Regions from separate parts of the Homo sapiens genome. Here region 1 is linked to region 2. Evidence: fine-mapped expression QTL. A gene starts in region 2. The other region holds a variant in brackets. All regions are shown on one strand. Distances are from middle to middle. Region 1 has its middle 34 kb from the start of PIAS1. Region 2 holds the start of CLN6 (CLN6 transmembrane ER protein).

Evidence for each region. PIP is the estimated chance that this variant, and not a neighbour inherited with it, causes the effect. A credible set is the group of variants that fine-mapping cannot tell apart.
Region 1: its variant is the best candidate, but not a certain one, in a credible set for the expression of CLN6 in whole blood (INTERVAL, PIP 0.73).

Annotation. Positions count from the first base shown.
Region 1 is chr15:68,017,685-68,023,200 of GRCh38, reverse strand. No RefSeq gene overlaps it. Among named protein-coding and RNA genes, the nearest start is that of PIAS1, 34 kb to the left of the region's middle. RefSeq lists enhancers at 374-1,157, 2,386-2,923, 2,924-3,462. The variant G/A (reference allele first, on the strand shown) is at 2,747.
Region 2 is chr15:68,226,731-68,231,730 of GRCh38, reverse strand. CLN6 (CLN6 transmembrane ER protein) reads left to right here and starts at 2,003. Exons shown (of 7, transcript NM_017882.3): 1 at 2,003-2,229. The coding sequence starts at 2,147. RefSeq lists enhancers at 1,259-1,308, 2,539-2,618, 2,649-2,718 and silencers at 1,960-2,139, 1,909-2,498.

The sequences.
Region 1 (5,516 bases), 210 kb after region 2:
CAGTGAATTGGTTTTATTTGTGCAGCGGGCAGGTAGAACCCATCAGGTGGGGCCGGGCGCGGTGGCTCATGCCTGTAATCCCAGCACTTTGGGAGGCTGAGGCGGGCAGATCACGAGGTCAGGAGATTGAGACCGTCCTGGCTAACACGGTGAAACCCCATCTCTATTAAAAATACAAAAAAATTAGCCGGGCATGGTGGCGGGCACCTGTAGTCCCAGCTACATGGGAGGCTGAGGCAGGAGAATGGCATGAACCTGGGAGGTGGAGCTTGCAGTGAGGCGAGATTGCACCACTGCACTCCAGCCTGGGCAACAGAGTAAGACTCCGTCTCAAAAAAAAAAAAAAAAAAGAACCCATCAGGTGATTACGTTACCTTCATTGGAGGCAACTCTGAAAAGCCATCCCAACTCCAGAATTCCCCCCAAGGTTGGCTGAGGCCCTCATCCCTCTCTCCTTACAGGCATTGATCCTGAGAGTTCTCCCCAGCAAACTTCCAGCATACAAATAGGTGCCTCAGAGGCGCCTCATCCTAAGACAGTGTGTAGCAGACAGGGAAGCTGAAGCCTGGAGACCATCTGAGAAGACGGTGAGCAAAAGCCATGAGGTACCAGACACTACGGTCTCACAGAAGTCATTCCGAGGTCAGGAGCCACAGATTAAAAATGAGAAAAAAAAAGTAGACGGGGTCAAGTCACTTTCTCAACGTATCCTGAACATCAGCTGAAGTAACGAGAAGTTGTTTTTCCTTCCTGCCAACTGGAAAGAGCCTCAGGACCACACTCAGCCAGGCACCAGAGCTGGGCATCTGCCTTGTGTCTGTCTTGTCCCTCCACTTCCCTTGACCCTTGGACCAGTGACAGGGACACTCTGCCTACATTTGTCAGCCTCTCCCTTTGAGGAACTGGCCAACGTTCTCTAAACAGCCAACTTCTGGCTGCAGCGTTGTTCCGAATAAATTGACCTAGAACAAAGGTGCTTCCTCCTGTCTGACTCCAAGTACAACAAGTTCTTTGGACACTGTGTCTTGACTTCTGCTGGCTGCCCTGGGGCGTAGTTTGAGGTGGGGTCATCTTCTCTTGCTCTGTACCCGCAGGCTCCAGCCCCCTTGCTCTCCCTGTTAATCCAGGATGCTGAGGGTAAGGCCAAATTCACTCATGTTGTGATACTCTCCTTTTCCTTTCTGGCTTTAGTTTCTCCTCTAAGAAAATACAGACATGGGCCGAGCGCGGTGGCTCACACTTGTAATCCCAGCACTTTGGGAGGCTGAGGTGGGTGGATCACCTGAGGTCAGAAGTTCGAGACCAGCTTGATCAACATGGAGAAACCCCATCTCTACTAAAAATACAAAATTAGCCAAGTGTGGTGGCGCATGACTGTAATCCCAGCTACTCGGGAGGCTGAGGCAGGAGAATTGCTTGAACTCAGGAGGTGGAGGTTGCAGTGAGCGGAGATCACAACATTGCACTCCAGCCTGGGCAACAAGAGTAAAACTCTGTCTCAAAAAAATAAAAAAAGAAAGAAAAAAAGAGAAAATACAGACATGGCTCCTATGGCCTTAGGGTTTTCCCCTCATTTCTTGCTCTCTTGCGCTGCATGTTTCTTTTATTCTTTAGCAAGAAATCTTCTCAAGTTTCAAACATTCATTAGATCTGAACTAACGGTTATAGAGAACATCTCAGTAGTAGCATGAAGTGTTCACATTGAGTCTGAAATATTAGCTCAACTACTTCTTTTTTTTTTTTTGAGACAGAGTCTCGCTCTGTTGCCCCCAGGCTGGAGTGCAGCCGCACTAACTTGGCTCACTGCAAGCTACGCCTCCCAGGTTCATGCCATTCTCCTGCCTCAGCCTCCCAAGTAGCTGGGACTACAGGTGCCCGCCACCACGCCTGGCTAATTTTGTTTTTGCATTTTTAGTAGAGACAGGGTTTCCCTGTGTTAGCCAGGATGGTCTCGATCTCCTGACCTCGTGATCCGCCCACCTCGGCCTCCCAAAGTGCTGGGATTACAGGCGTGAGCCACCGCGCCCAGCCAACTATTTCTTTTTATAATGTAAAAGTTGATGGATCATAAAAGTTGGCTTTTAAATGGATTTACTTAAACATTTTTAATATGCAAAAATTTAAACATTTACACACAAAATCATATGAAGCCCCTTATACCCTTCATCCAGCCCAATCAACCTAAAACATACGTGTTTATTTCTACCGTGTTCAGTTGACTGAGAGGAGTCAACAGATGGTAAATCAACTCATTTACTTGCAGGTAACTGAAGGTCAACTTAAAATGACAATTCCTGATTGCTTTGTTTGATTGACCTGGGTCAGAGTGCTAATTCAGGCATGCATGGTGAGACTCCCACATTGAACTGGTCTATAAGTGTCAATGATTCTCTCTTCTGCCCATCCCTTGGATCTATCCCCTTCTATGTACCCCTTGCTTCCCGAATTTGGGAACCTCAGTTGCCTCTTGCCTATGCAGCTAGATTTTATATACTGAGATTTTAATAGGTTGCCTCCCTCCCTCATTTGCTCCTCCCCATTCCTCTCATTTAAACAGAGAGTTATCTCTGAACTATGAAACCTTGAAAAAGCTCTCAGGCAGAGCAGAAGGCAGAAGGAGGCAAAGCTTTCTGGCTTTTGTTTGCGGGAAACCCAAGAAGCCTGAGGGAAAATTAGGGAGTTTGCTAAGGAATGAAGGGAAGAAGCTGGTTTGCAGGTATTGGTGGTGTTTAGGGACAAAAATAGA[G/A]CATCTTGGTGGGGAAAAAGAAGAGAGAGGCCTGAGGGTCTCTGATCAGCAGGGAGCATGGTTCTGCTTCCTGAGAGGTGGCACGTCCCCAGGAAGGAATCGGTGCTGGCTTGTGACTACAAGCAGACTCACAAACAGTGCCTGAATCCCAAACATGACATGAAGATAACAGCATTACTGGGCCCAAAGGGACCATGTGGGCAGGGCCGACGGTTGTCTCAGTGGTACCACATGTCTGATGAGGAGCACGTTGCCACTCCCCACTATCCCTCTCCCCAACAGTGATATTGGCACTAGGTGAGACCCTGGAGCTGTGTTGCACCACCCCTGCTGCTGAAGAGGGGAAGAACTCAGATCAAGTCTCAGCTGGATGGAGGCATCGCTGAGCCTCAGTTAAGTAATTTGCCCAAGGCACACGGCTACTAACAAGTGGCAGAGCTAGGCCAGGTCTGCCTGTGTTAGCATCCATGTGTTTAATTACGCTGCAGGATTGCAGAAATTCTATGCCTTCGTACCTCCATCAGCTCCCAGAGGAGCAAATGACACTTTTTTGCCCAGAGGTATGAAGGTAGATCAGATACCCTTTCAAGTGATCTTTCATCTAAGGCAGCTGTGGAGTGACAGAGGCCAGGGTAGGCAGGCAAAACCTCCAACTCCCCAAGACTTCCCCATACTCACAGAACCTTACAGCAATGCCAAGCCTCAGGTTCCTTGTCTGTGAAATGGAGGTGCAACACCTACCCACCTCATAGAGCTCATGGTGGGCAGATGATGGAGAAGAAATAAACTGTAATGTACAAATGTCCCAGTTTAGCAATACAGTCAGGAAGAACAGTAACAACTAGCACTTCAACCACAGCCCTGAGGCCCTGTTGGACCTTTGAGTGTGGTTCGTTCCTGGAGGCTAAGCTCTCTGGTCCCAGCCTGTGCACAGTCTGTTCCCTTACCTGGAACATGTTGTCCCACCCTCCCCTCCCTACTTTCCCTTTGCAAACTCCTACTGATCTTCTGGTCTCAAAAGAAGATGTCACCTCCTCTGGAGGGCCTTCTTGGGCCATGCCCCACCCAAACATCTGAGTAACACACCCCTTCTCTAGGCAATCCTGACATGCACTGCTCCTTGAGCACTGAAATCCCCACTCACCAGCCCATCAGCCCACTTCTCTCCCGCTACGGGCTTCCCCCAACTACACTAGAGACCTCATTGAAGGTGGGGGCTGTGTCTTGTTTATGGTTATATTTCTAAGCTCTAGAACAGGACCTCACACATAAGGGACATTCAGTATTTTAATATTTGTTAAATGAAGAAAGGAAAAAATATGCCCTCTGAGTCATCAAAGACAGATTCATTTATGGCCCTAGTAGTTTTTTCTTTCCTTTTCTTTCTTTTCTTTCCTTTTCTTTCTCTTTCTCTTTCTTTCTCTCTTTCTTTCTCTCCCCTTCCTTCCTTCCTTTCCTTCCTTCCCTCCCTCCCTCCTTTCTTTCTTTCTTTCTCTTTCTTTCGACAGGGACTTCTCACTCTGTTGCTCAGCCTGGAGTGCAGTGGAGTGATTGTAGTTCACTGTAGCCTCGACTTCCCAGGCTCAGCAATCCTCCCACCTCAGCCTCCTGAGTAACCAGGACTACAGGCACAAACCACCACTCCCGGCTAATTAGAAAAACATTTTTTTTGTAGAGACAGGATCTTGTCATGTTGCCCAGGCTGGTCTTGAACGCCTAGGCTCAAGCAATCTTCCCACCATGGCCTCCTAAAGTGCTTGGATTACAGGTATGAGCTACCATGCCTGGCTCAAAATAGTTTCAATGCCAAGTATATTTCATTCTGTCTTAATTTCCTGAAAATTGGTAATCCAAATACAGCTTAAATATAACATAGCTTGCACCAACCACCTGCAAGTAGATGACTGAATGATCAAGCCCTCCTCAATGGGCTTGATAATTCTTTGACTGGCTTCACTGGGCCTAAGACAGTTCTTGAGAAACATTTGCTGAGTAACTGGTAAACATAATATATATTTCCTTGACCAGAGTGGGGATGAAATTAACTGCATTAAAGTCTTATTTGTTTAATAAAATATAGGATTTTATAAGGAACAAGTCTTTACCTCTTGAAAAAATATCAAGGGCCAGGCATGGTGGCTCACGCCTGTAATCCCAGCATGTAGCAAGGCCGAGGGGGGAGGATCCCTTGATGTCATGTAGAAATGGGACAGAGTTCTTCCTTCACATATTCTTATGCTCTCTGAGTCATCAAAGTCAGATTCATTCATGGCTCTAATAGTTTCTTTCTTTTTTTCTTTTTTGAGATGGTATCTTGCTCTGTCACCCAGGCTGGAGTGCAGTGGCGTGATCTCGGCTCACTGCAACCTCTGCCTCCCAGGTTCAAGGGATTCTTCTGCCTCAGCCTCTTGAGTGGCTGGGACTACAGGCGCTCGCCTCCATGCCCAGCTAATTTTTTTTGTATTTTTAGTAGAGATGGGGTTTCACCACATTGGCCAGGCTGGTCTCGAACTCCTGATCTTGTGATCCACCCGCCTTGGCCCCCAAAGTGTTGGGATTACAGGCGTGAGCCATGGCGCCCAGCTAGTTTCTTTTTCTTCCTTTTTTTTTGAGATTGGGTCTCGCTCTGTTGCTCAGGCTGGAGTGCAGTGGAGTGATCATGGTTCACTGCAGCCTCAGCCTCCCAAGCTCAAGCAATCCTCCCACCTCAGCCTCCTTTTTTTCTTTTTCCTTCTTCTGTTGTCCCACTGATCACAAAACCCACACCACT
Region 2 (5,000 bases):
AAAAAGGCAGATGTGTTTGTATTTAAGAGATTGGAGGATTAAATGAGCTAGAGAGGCTCCCTCCACACGGCCTCATCCTCTGATGGCTGGAAGCCCACCTCTGAGTGTTATTAAATCGATGATGACATCATGGGCACTGCATGCCCCTCCCTCTGGAGCCCAGCAGGCTTGCAAAGCCTGCAGAGGATAAGAAATTGGGGTCAGAGCGGGAAGCCTCAATCCTTCTTCTCTGGTGTATACCGAGATCGATGTGTAGATCAGATTCACCAGAATTAAATCTGGGGCCCCGTCTGAGTGCTGTCCTTGGCTGACCCTTGGGCACAGTACTTCAGCTCAGGGCCTAGGTTTTTCTCTGCTACAAAACAGAGACAATCACCTGTTCTCCTTACGACCTGGTGTGTGTGGATCAAATGAAACAAGGAAAGCTTTAAAGCAAATGTGTTCTTCAGGGGACCAGGGGCGGAGGGGGGGGATTGAGGTGTGGCCTGTGGGCTGCTAGAGCCCAGGATGGGGCTGATGGAAAATGACTCCCAGGCAGGCAGTCCTAGCCTCCCACAGCCAAGAAAGGACATGCAGGTTCTGACCAAAGGGGAAAGAAATAAATCCAATAAACATCTCCCAAGAAGAAAGACAGGAAAGAAAATAGAATGGAAATAGGCATAGCTCAGACCCCTCATGGTCTGGGAAGCAGACCAAGGATACTGGGCAGGGGAATGGCACATTGCATTTGCATCTGAGGCACATCCCTTCCAAGAGGCACATCCCTTCTGCAGCGGCTTGAGGGCTGGGTGAGAGGAGACAGGACTGGAGACCTGCACATGTCGTGTGCGCCTGGTGTAGCACGGGGGTGGTGGGGAGAATGGGAGTTGGTTGCAGTTGTTCTAGTTAGCGGCCTGGGCTGCTGACAGTGACCGTGGGGAGGAGAGAGTTTGTGACATTGACAGTGGTGTGGAAGGTAACCTTTCTGTGGAGGGAAACCTCAGGTCTCGAGACGGGCTATTGTAAATAACTTAGTCCACCAGTGCTGGGCTCTCTGCTAAGAGTTTCATATAGTCATCACAACTCCAATGTAGTAGATGCAATAGGCATCTTCTTGTTACAGATGAGTAAACTGAAGCTGTGAGGGGTTGAGCCATTTGCCCGCATCACAGCTAGTTCAAAGTGGTACCACTAATGAAGTCCTGGCAATCTGCCCTGCAGGCTGTTCTCAGGTTTGACCTTTGGTTCTGTTTTTCACTTGAGGATGCTGTCCCCTTAGGTTCTGTCTGTCTTGTATGCTCCGGTGACTCACGAGCCTGTCCACTGGGTTCCCAGGTCTCGCCTCAGCTTCAGACCACCGGTCCAACAGCCTTCCTGACCCACCTCAAGCTTAATGCGTTCAAAGATGAATCTTTATTTACACGAAATCTGCTCTAGCCCACTTCCCGGGGGGTGCCTCCACTATCCACCCAGGGGCAGAATCCGGCCACTGCCTGAACTCTTCTCCCCTCACCCCCCACATCCAGAGTCCCAGTCACCATACCTCTCACACGACTCTAGATGTCACCAACTCGCTCCTTCCCACTGTCACCGCCAGCCCCTCACTAGAACATCTGCAACCCACGTGCTGCACCACGCGGGTGCTACACGTGCAGGTCTCCAGTCCTGCCTCCTCTCCTCCACCCGTAAGAACAAGGGAAATCCCACAGAACCCTCTGCCCCGGGGAGCATTTAAATCAGCTTAGTCTATCTCCAGGTCGCTACCCCGCCCCAGCCCAACACCCAGGCCTCAGTCACCCTAGACAGAGATTCCCGTACCCAGGCAGGCAAGGGACCCTAACACATCCCAGCCCGCTGGTGGTCACGCGCGCAGCCCGGACAGGCCAGCAGCCCCCGCCCCGCGAGGACGCCACACTCGCAGCGCCCGGCCCTCCCCTAGCGGAGCCCGCCCCGTCTCCCTCCGCCCCGCCTCCCTCCGCTCCGCTCCGCTCCGCTCCGCCCCGCCCCGGGTCCGCAGCCCCGCCTGTTCCTCCCGAGGGCCGCGCGCTCTCGCCGGCCCGCCCCGAACCGCCCCGCGCTGGGAATTTGCGGCGGCCTCCGCCGGGGCAGCCGAGCTGAACCGGTCTCTTCCTCGGAAAGGCAGGGCCGAGGGGCCTGCGGGGCAGCCATGGAGGCGACGCGGAGGCGGCAGCACCTGGGAGCGACGGGCGGCCCAGGCGCGCAGCTGGGCGCCTCCTTCCTGCAGGCCAGGTGGGCGCGCGCCGGGGTGAGAGGGCGGGCTAGGCGCCTGTGCGCTGGGGCCTCGGGACCCGCCACGTGACGCTCCTAGGGCTGCCGGGCGGGAACCTCGTGTGCGGCGCTGGCCGGGGCGGAGCGGAGCGCGGGGGGCTTGGAGGCGCGCTACCGTGGCGGCGGTGCCCCCGCGTTTCCTTCTCTGTCTGGGGAGCCTGGGGCCCAGCGGGGCTCGGCCTCCCCGCTTCGCCGTTGCTCGGGTGGGAGGAGCGCCCGCCCGAAGTTTGGGGTTTTCCTCCCTTCCCGCGTTCCAGCGACCCGGGCTGGCGCCGGGACAGCCGCTGCGCTGGGAGAGCTCCCCAGGGCGGTGGGTACACACACCTCGTCACTCGGACCCCCAACTTATCCGCAAGTTCCGGGCGCCACCTCCGCGTTCTCGGGGTCCCTCCAGCCCTGAGTAGGACTTGATTCTGTCATTTATCAGGAGGCTGTCTGCTTGACCTGGGGCACCCAAGAATGTGCGAATGTAATGGAAGAGACAGCGGGGAAGGGCGGAAGCTGCCGTCCAGAGAATGAATGAGGAGCCCTTCTCAGTTTTTGGTTTATCTCGTTGGGCGAGCAGAGCTCCATTCTACCTTCGTCCCGTTTTACTGACCAGAAACATTCACTGCATTCAGCAGGCATTCTTTAAGCGCCTGTGGTATGCCCAGCGCTGTGCCAGGCAGTAAGGGGGTAGGCAGGGTGAAGGTGGGAGAGGCTTACGGTCCTGTAGGGATCAGGAGAGACAGAGCCCAAGTGGGAGTGAGCGGTCATCTTGGAGGGCTTCATGGAGGAAGTGGCACTTGAGCTGAGTCTCAGAGGACTTGGTAGGGGACCCAGGGAAGACAGGCTGTTCCATCCAGGGAAACAGTGGGGAAGGGCAAGGAGTTTAGTGGTGCTGGAGCTTTCCGGCTGTAAAAGAAAGTGACAGGAGGATGCAGACTGATTGTGAAGGGCCTTTAATTGCAGCAAGTCTAGGACTCGAGTTGAGGACCTAGATTGCAAAACTTAGGGGTAGGCGCACTGCCGTGACCGTGAGTGCCGCCTCAAATGTTGGGCCTTGGAGGCCTTGCTTGTCTCACCCTAGTTCCTGTCCTAGGTGACAGGTTAAGGACACAGTCTTTATCCCATAGGCACTGGGGAGTCGTGAGAAGTTTCTGAGCACTAGCATGCGCAAAGTCCTTGTTAGGAAGTTTTTGGTACGACCTGGATGAAGGGAGAAGTCTGAGCGCTTGGGCTGAGGTGAGGGATGGCTCGTTTCTGCTGCTGCGGACATGCGGGCTGAGCAGCTGCGGACTGTGTCCGTTTTCACTTAGAAACAATGTACTGGCCATAGACCGCATACTGTAGCTCACCTGTCTCCCTCGGCCTGTGAGTTAAGTATTATTTTACTGATGAGGAAATAGGCTTAGATGGGCTGAGGAGCCTGACTGGCTGAGTCCCCGGGCTGTCTGCCCCACGCCGTGTCCAGTGGTTTCATCTCTGCTGTGACCCAACCCATTTACCAGCTCCCCTCTTCCAGGCAGCCTCTTCTGCCTGCGGGATGTCTCTGTTCCGAATCCTTGCCAAGTTGGGGGTCACTGACTGCCCTGAACTGTGACAGCCCAATGGGAACAGCCTGTGGGTCTCAGATAGGGTCACCACTTTATCTCCTGTGTGGGGCTCCCATGTCTAGCATCTTACTCAGTCTTGACAATGAGCTGCCAGATGTCACTTCCAATGTACAGATGGGGAAATGGAGGCCCAAAGAGGTTACATCATTTGCTGGCAAGAACCAGGGCCTAAACCCAGGGTTTCTGACTTACGGGCTCTGCTCTTACGACTCCACTTTGGCTGCTAAGGAGTCATGTCCCTCTTCCCCTGTGTGAGCTCCCCACCAGCCAGGGTATTCCCAGGGGGGTGGTGTGAGGGTGGGAGCTCTCTGTCTCCCAGGGTGTCTCTGCCCCCCACAATGTGGCTTCAGCCCATTCCCAGTATCATTGCTGCTCAAGAGAGTAGGCAGAATCATCCTGTCCAGTTCCTAGGATGCTTGGATTTCCTCTGCTGCATCCGTGCTTTGCTCACTACCTCTTAAGGTAACCCATTCCAACGTCCACCTGCTTTGTTGCCAGTTTTTGTATTATAATGAAAGTGTTACAATTAGGCCGGGTGCCATGGCTCACGCCTGTAATCCCAGCACTTTGGGAGGCCAAGGTGGGTGGATCACTTGAGTCCAGGAGTTCGAGACCAGCCTGGCCAACATGGAGAATCCCCGTCTCTACTAAAAAATACAAAAATTATCCAGGTGTGATGGCCCATGCCTGTAATCCCAGCTACTCAGGAGGCTGAGGCACCAGGATCCCTTGAGCCTGGGAGGCGGAGGTTGTAGTGAGCCGAGATGGCGCCACTGCACTCCAGCCTGGATGACAGTGAGACTGTCTCAAAAAAAAAAAAAAGTAAAAAAAGAAAAGAAAAGAAAGTATTATAATTAGTGCCCGTGATAAATCAAATAGCAAAGGCTTCAAGTTTTAAAAAGTAGTAATCCCTGTCCCACTCTTCCCTAGCACCAGAGACAATCACCCTAGCTTCTTTTAGCTCTTTTTTCCAGAGTCAAATTCCTATTTCCAAATAATATGTTTATAACAATAAAAAACACTAGCACTTTTTATGGATCAGGCCCTGCTCTTAAGTTTTTGCATGTATTAATTAAACCACGACCCTTGAGATACGATCTACTGGCCAGGTGTGGTGGCTCATGCCTGTAATCCCAG